2 linked regions of the Homo sapiens genome follow. The protein of the gene in region 1 purifies or fractionates together with the protein of each later gene. This does not show direct contact. Each region holds a gene or a part of one and is shown on either strand. Other genes may lie near its edges.

What was found.
Region 2: the proteins of LZIC (region 1) and CDK19 purify together in Homo sapiens (affinity purification with mass spectrometry, with the first as the bait; one large-scale study listed by BioGRID). This does not show direct contact.

What each region holds. Positions count from the first base shown.
Region 1 is NC_000001.11:9,933,363-9,937,185, reverse strand, and holds part of LZIC (protein LZIC), read left to right. Parts: intron 1-558; coding exon of another isoform or gene 559-566; coding exon 567-667; intron 668-1,558; coding exon 1,559-1,694; intron 1,695-2,325; coding exon 2,326-2,424; intron 2,425-3,823.
Region 2 is NC_000006.12:110,609,155-110,612,973, forward strand, and holds the end of CDK19 (cyclin-dependent kinase 19), read right to left. Parts: 3' UTR 824-3,819; downstream 1-823.

The sequences.
Region 1 (3,823 bases):
TCCTGACTTCATGATCCGCCCACCTCAGCCTCCCAAAGTGCTGGGATTACAGGCGTGAGCACCGTGCCTGGCCTTTTTTTCTCTTTAGAGATGGGGTTTCCCCCATGTTGCTCAGGCTGGTCTTGAACTCCTGACCTCAGGTGATCCACCCACCTCGGCTTCCAAAAGTGCTGGGGTTACAGGCGTGAGCCACCACATCCGGCCTTTTTTGTATTTTTAGTAGAGATGGGGTTTCACCATGTTAGCCAGGATGGTCTTGATCTCCTGACCTTGTGATCCACCCGCCTCGGCCTCCCAAAGTGCTGGGATTACAGGCCTGAGCCACCGGCGCCTGGCCGCAGCTGCATATTTTTAATTGCACTAGGGACTGGGTGTGGTGGCTTATGCCTATAATCCCACCTCTTTGGTAGTCCAAGATGGGAGGGTCACTTTAGGCCAGATGTTCCGAGACCAGCCTGGGCAACATAGTGAGACTCTGTCTCTACAAAAAATAAAACTTAAAAAAATTGCACTGGTATGTTAATTTCATATGGTATGTGGGTTTATTGTTTCACATAGAGATTAAAATGGCTTCCAGAGGAAAGACAGAGACAAGCAAATTAAAGCAGAATTTAGAAGAACAGTTGGATAGACTCATGCAACAATTACAAGATCTGGAGGAATGCAGGTAAGAGTTTAATTGTATGTTGTTATGCTGGAAACTGGCGTTTTTTCTGCAGCTAGCTCCGTGGATGCAGGCCCATGTGTGATGATTCTGCATTCCCCTGTAGTGTTCTTTGCAGTGCTTTGTCTATTAGAGAAGTAAACTTATTGCAGGCTTTGGAGTCATAAAGGCTGGGAAATGAAAGTCATTCAGTTAACTACTAAGTGCATGTGAACTTGAGCAAAATACTTACCTTCCTTGAAGTAGAAATAACACCTACTTTGTCTTTAGTATTTAAATCAGTCCTACCTGCTGTCAGGCTAAGAAGGTACTACTTGAACTTCTGGCATGTAGTTTCAGCCTTACCTGCACAAAGGACCACAACAGTTCATTGCAGCTTTTTTTTTTTTTTTTGAGACAGAGTCTTGCTGTATTGCCCAGGCTGGAGTGCAGTGGCGAGATCTCAGCCCACTGCAACTTCTGCTTCCCAAGTTCAAGCGATTCTCCTGCCTCAGCCTCCCGAGTAGCTGGGATTACAGGCATGCACCACCATGCCCGGCTAATTTTGTATTTTTAGTAGAGACGGGGTTTTACCATGTTGGCTAGGCTGGCCTCGAACTCCTGACCTCAGGTGATCTGCCCATCTCAGCCTTCCAAAGTGCTGGGATTACAGGTGTGAGCTACGGCACCCTGCTTTATTATGTGGTTTCTTAAGTATCCTCATTTTGGTAAAAGAAAAATGTTTACCAAAGTAACTATATTGCAGGAAAATGCCCTCACTACTACTATGTGAACACATTCACCATCAGCATTTTGATATTTCCCTTCAGTCTTTCTCTAATGTACAAGTATTAAGATTGCATTTTTCACTTGGAACTCTTCATTTTTCCATATCATGATGTTCACCTATTTCAGAGAGGAACTTGATACAGATGAATATGAAGAAACCAAAAAGGAAACTCTGGAGCAACTAAGTGAATTTAATGATTCACTAAAGAAAATTATGTCTGGAAATATGACTTTGGTAGATGAACTAAGTGGAATGCAGCTGGTAAGTATAACATATAGGCGACAGAGGACAGACTTTGTTTTTTTGTTTGTTCTTGTTTTTGTTTGAGATGCATTCTTACTCTGTCGCCCAGGCTGGAGTGCAGTGGGGCAGTCTTGGCTCACTGCAACCTCCGCCTCCCAGGTTCAAGCGATTCTCCTTACTCAGCCTCCTGAGGAGCTGGGATTACAGGCATGTGCCACCATACCCAGCTAATTTTGTATTTTTAGTAGAGACGGGGTTTCTCCATGTTGGTCAGGCTGGTCTTGAACTCCCAACCTCAGGTATCTGTCTGCCTCGGCCTCCCAAAGTGCTGGGATTACAAGCGTGAGCCACTGTGCCTGGCCTTTAGTTTTTTTTTTTTAGAGATGGGGTCTTGCTACATTTCCAAGGCTGGTCTCAAACTCATGGGCTCAAGCAATCCTCCTGCCTTGGCCTCCCAAGGTGTAACTTCTAGATGAGTGTCTGTTTATGCATACACAACATATCCTTCCAGATCTTCATTTAGTTGTGTAATTGCTTCCATGACAGGAACCAGTAAACCTTGATAAAAATTAAGGATCCGTCAATCAGTTATTGCAATATCTGATTTGTTGGACTATTTTGGTTAGTTTTTGCCTTCTTGTGTTTCTAGGCTATTCAGGCAGCTATCAGCCAGGCCTTTAAAACCCCAGAGGTCATCAGATTGTTTGCAAAGAAACAACCAGGTCAGCTTCGGACAAGGTTAGCAGAGGTAAAATTTCTTTAAATTGATTTGGTTGCTGTGTGTTTTTCATTTCCTAGGCCAATTCATTATGATATCCTATGGCTTAAAAATTTGCCAGGTGATTTTAGAGCCACAACTAACAATTTTCTGACAAAATTAGTACTTTGAGCAATTATAGTTGATAATGAATGTAGAGCTTTAAACAATATACGGCAGTTTAAATTGCCACTGACCACTTCTACCTGGACTCCACCTTTAATGTTTTACCATTTACTTCTGGAGCTCTAACTTAAAATCACATTGAGAATTAATTAGCAGCATTGCTTGTATGCATGTGTAGCCTATCTCATCTAAGAATTTCAAGTATCTTTGTAAACCTGATACTTCCAGAAGTCTGTTTATAGGCTTGGATGTAATTAAGAGTTACCAAATTATTTGTAAGTATGGGCAATTCAGTAGCATAGTGATTCAGAGCATGGACTTTGGTCAGACTGGCTGGATTTGAATTCCTGCTTCACTACTGAGGTATGTGACAAGTTTTTTATGTTTTTTTTTTTTTTTGAGATGGGGTCTTGTTCTGTTGCCCAGGCTGGAGGGCAGTGGCGCAATCTCGGTTCAGTACAACCTCTGCCTCTGGGTTCAAGTGATTCTCTTGCCTCAGCCTCCTGAGTAGCTGGGACTACAGCAGGCACATGCCACCACGCCTGGCTAATTTTTGTATTTTTAGTAGAAATGGGGTTTACCATGTTGTCAAGGCTGGTCTTGAACTCCTAACCTCAAGTGATCTGCCCGCCTCAGCCTCCCAAAGTGTTGGGATTATAGATGGGAGCCACTGCGCCTAGCCTTTTGTTTGTTTTTTGTTTTTTTGTTGTTGTTGTTGTTTTTGAGGCAGGGTCTTACTTTGTCACCCAGGCTCAGTGTAGTAATGCAATCTCGGCTCACTGTAGCCTCTGTCTCCTGGGCTCAAGCGTCTCCCATCTCAGCCCCTCAAGTATCTGGGCCCACAGGCACAACACCACCACACCCCACTAATTTTTGTATTTTTCATAGAGACAGGGTTTCACCATGTTGGCCAGGATAGTCTTGAACTCCTGAGCTCAAGCAATCCACCCACCTCAGCCTTCCAAAGTGGTGGGATTACAGGCATGAGCCACTGTACCTGGCCTGGACAACTTATTTTATTCATCCCCTTTGTGCCTAGGTTTCTCTGTCTGTAAAAACATGACAAAGATAGTCCTTACCTCTTATGGTTCTTATGAGGATTAAATGAAGTAATATGTGTAAAAGTACTTTGAATATTCCCAATGTGTGGTACATGCTATTAGTGTTTCTGGTGGAAGAGGTGATATTTTACTAGATGATTTACTAGAACTGCATTTAACATTTCTATCATATTTGCCTTGGATTATATCTGTAGTTCTTTATA
Region 2 (3,819 bases), on another chromosome or scaffold:
CCCTGTTCCCAAGAATTTACAGTCTGTTAAGGTGATGGACATCACCTTCCCAGTTCTCCCAGGAGTGGTAAAGGGTTTGTCCAGTCATCTGCTTTGTCTTACCCAGATGGCTGGTGAGAAACGCAGCCGAGGCCAATGAACAGCTTTGCAGAAGATCTATCCTACAAATAGCACAGCACTGAGTATGAAATCTGTGCCAAAAAGAGAAGCAGCCAAGTGGGATGTGATTATTTTAAATAGAAATGAAAGCTCTGTATTCATGCCACTTAAACATTGTTCAGTTCACTCTGTGATGCCTTTGGATATTGGAGTAACAACCATAGAAGATTCATCAAACAAATTATAGAAGGAGCAGCCAGGTACCACAGAGTGCTCTTATAAAACAAGAAACTCCCAATCCAACCCCATCCACAAAATGCTTATTAGTCTTTTCTAATTCTCATTTATATTTTTTTAAAAAGATGTTTCTCCTAAAGATGTATAAAAACCTGCAATTTTACTTATGAGGTATTTGCAGGCCTTGCTTGCTTTGCAGTATTATGACATCATAGCATCCTGAACAAAATAACATATTAGAACTCACAGAAAGACTTCGTATCTCTGCAGGAAAAGTGTAATTATAAAAGCTTCTAGGCACACAGATAAAATTTTAACGCTAGATGGGGTCTCACTATGTTGTCCAGTCAGGTCTCCAACTCCTGGCCTCAAGCAATTCTTCTACCTCAGCCTCCCGAAGTGCTGAGATTACAGGCATGAGCCACTGTGTCCAGCCACTAAGCCTTATTATAAGATTTTTTTTATATTTAAAAAATCCACACAGAAGCAAAGTCAATTAAATTTTATTTCAACCAAGAATATAAAATAAATGCAATGTAATTTATTTTAGTTTTAACAGTCATTTCAAGAAGGAAGTCAGGTCAACTCAAAAGCAGGAAACCCTCGCTCCAAAGCAGTAGCTCGTCCTGCACTCCATGGAGCAGGCCTCGCTGGGGTGCAGCGGCTCTGAGCACAAACCTCGCAGTGGAGCACGAAAAGCTACAGTCATCTCTATAACCATATAAAGGGGGATGCGTGCAGAAAATGACTGAAAAAAGAGACAAGAACAGGTACACTTCACAAATAGGAATTATAGGAATATACAAACTAGGCAGTTTAGAAAGGATATACTACATAACATATATAAAAAGTACTTTAAATTGTTGTTAAAAAGGACACCTTCAGTCCAGATTTTGTGTAATACTTTTAGTGTCTACACAGACAAATCTTTAAAAAAATTAAATAGTATTAATTTACTAAATATTTAGGAGATAACAGTGCATTAAGGGTTTTTTTTTTTATATAATACATACATATCACCCCTTTGCAGTGATAGCATAGAAGAGTAAGTATGGCCTTAGGTACAACACGTTTTTTAAAAACCCTAAAACAATGAACTTTGTTATATTTGTGACTATTTTTGAGGATTATGGGGACCTAAACTGCTATGTTTTATACAAAATATTACTTGTACTTGAATCCTTCAAGCCTCTGTTGGTCTAACTGCCATTTCACTGCCTTTCTCTACTCCCTAGGAAGACATCATCATAGAGTTTTGGATTTGTAATTTCCATAGAATTCTTCCTTCATTGTATAGTTTCTGCTGCATAAATTTACTCAAAAGCACATCAAGTTGCATGTCTTATTTTCCAACTATTTTTTTCTTTTCTTTTACCTTTAGCAGAGAAAACAGCATCATTTTAGAGGCATAGAGAACAAGTAGCAGTTGCTTCACCAGGAATGAGGCAGCACACATAGGTAAATGTCATCCCTTTCCATTCTTAAGAGTCCATTATGTTCGTAAGAGCAAAAGAGTAGTGCAGAAGGCCAAAATTCTAAGTACTAAAGTTTCAAAACCACAGAGATATAAAAATATACATAATCCTTGGTCTTTGTATGTCACTGCATGATCTACTTCATCACAAGGATTGTTTCAGCCTCATAGTATCAGCCCTGCTGCCAAAGCTACCTTACCTTGAGCTCATCTGTCCTGCAACACTTGAATTCCTTTCACAAACACACACCTCCCCAGAAAGCTAACTCTGAAACTGGTTTGTAACACGAAGAGCAGAAAGCCTTCACTTGGATTCATTCCTTCCTGTCAATAACCCCTCCTAGTTTGGGTGTTCCCATAGGCTGAGGGATGCCCCTCCTGTACCCTTGGGGGACATAACAGTATCTAATAAATTTCAAAGAGAAATGCCATCATTTGGGGACCACAAAGGTAAAGTTTGCCCTCAAAAAGCTTCAAAGGTCTCCTTAGAGGTCCCACGGTTTGAGGGCCCTTACGTGTGTTAAAAAGGCTTTGTTCCCAACTGGGTGCGGTGGCTCACACCTATAATCCCAGCACTTCGGGAGGCCGAGACAGGCGGATGACCTGAGGTGAGGAATTCAAGACCAGCCTGACCAATAGGGTGAAACCCCATCTCTACTAAAAATACAAAAATTAGCCAGACGTGGTGGTGCGTGCCCGTAGTCCCAGCTACTCGGGAGGCTGAGGCAGGAGAATCACTTGAACCTGGAAGGTGGAGGTTGGAGTGAGCCAAGATCGTGCCACTGCACTCCAGCTTGGGTGACAGAGCAACACTCCGTCTCAAAAAAAAAAAAGGCTTTGTTCCCCTTTAAAGGAAAGAAAATGATCCAAAATTATTACTAAGGGTAAAGGGAATCAGTGGGTAGCACGAACCCTGAGGCAAGGAAAGAGGAGAAAAGAGCCAGTACCAGTGCAGGGATAGGAACTCAGTCATGTGTGGAATGGAGATTTCTGGCTATGTCCTGGAGGATATTGTATACTGGGAGCAACTGACGAAATCCCCTTACAGTTTATATTTCAGTTCTGCCAGCAAAAGTCATTATATACAAGGAAAACAGGGTAGTTCTGTGAATGTATAAGCGTAAGAACTATTTAACAATGCTGCTTATAAAGTATTAAGGGGCATAGTATTTTGGTTTACATATCTATCTGGGTTTGTCTTCTTTTATTAAAGGTAACCTCCTTGAGAGCAAGAACAGACCTTCTATTTTCCTTGCAATTTCCTACAACCACTTAGGAGAGTATGTTCTGCCTACAAGGACCACCCAGTTGTTGTTAAAAGGCTGCTGTGAACATTTCAAAGATACGTCAATGCCTTTTGTGATATTGAATCACTGGCTTTCTCTAAGGTAGACTGACATAGAAACCCTTCCATAATATTATTTACAGAACAGATTTGGGGATAGTAACTACCCAAGTGGGTTTAGAAGTAAACAAAAAGACCTTCATATTATAAGACAGTTTCACTTGTAAGTCAATCACATGGCACAGACATCCCAGGAGGGCTTACTGTCACAGATCACAAGCTCCTTAAGGACAAGAAGTATGCCCTGTCCTCTGTGTTCTCTACCCAGCAGGGCACCAGGCACATGGTGAGGGTGCAATAAGCATCTGATGACCAACAGCTCTGGACAGTGAGGCTTTAGGGCACAGGATAAAACTGCATATAGGCAGCTACATTATGCAGAGGGCTGCTAATTTCTTATTTTAAAAAATGGAAGGGGTAAAACAGCAGGAGACTATCAGAAACTCCTTCCAATGGAGCACGTAACCTGCTTCATCTTCAGTCTTGATGAGTGTCACTATGCAGACTTCATTATTAGTGAGCATTATTATGCTGAGATCAGTAAGGTCCTGGCTGGCTACAGTATCACATCAATAGTGCAAAATGTATACTGGCTTCTGTCTAATCTTATTTTACTTGTGTATGGACCCACAGTATCATAACCAGGTAGATAAGTTCAGAAAGA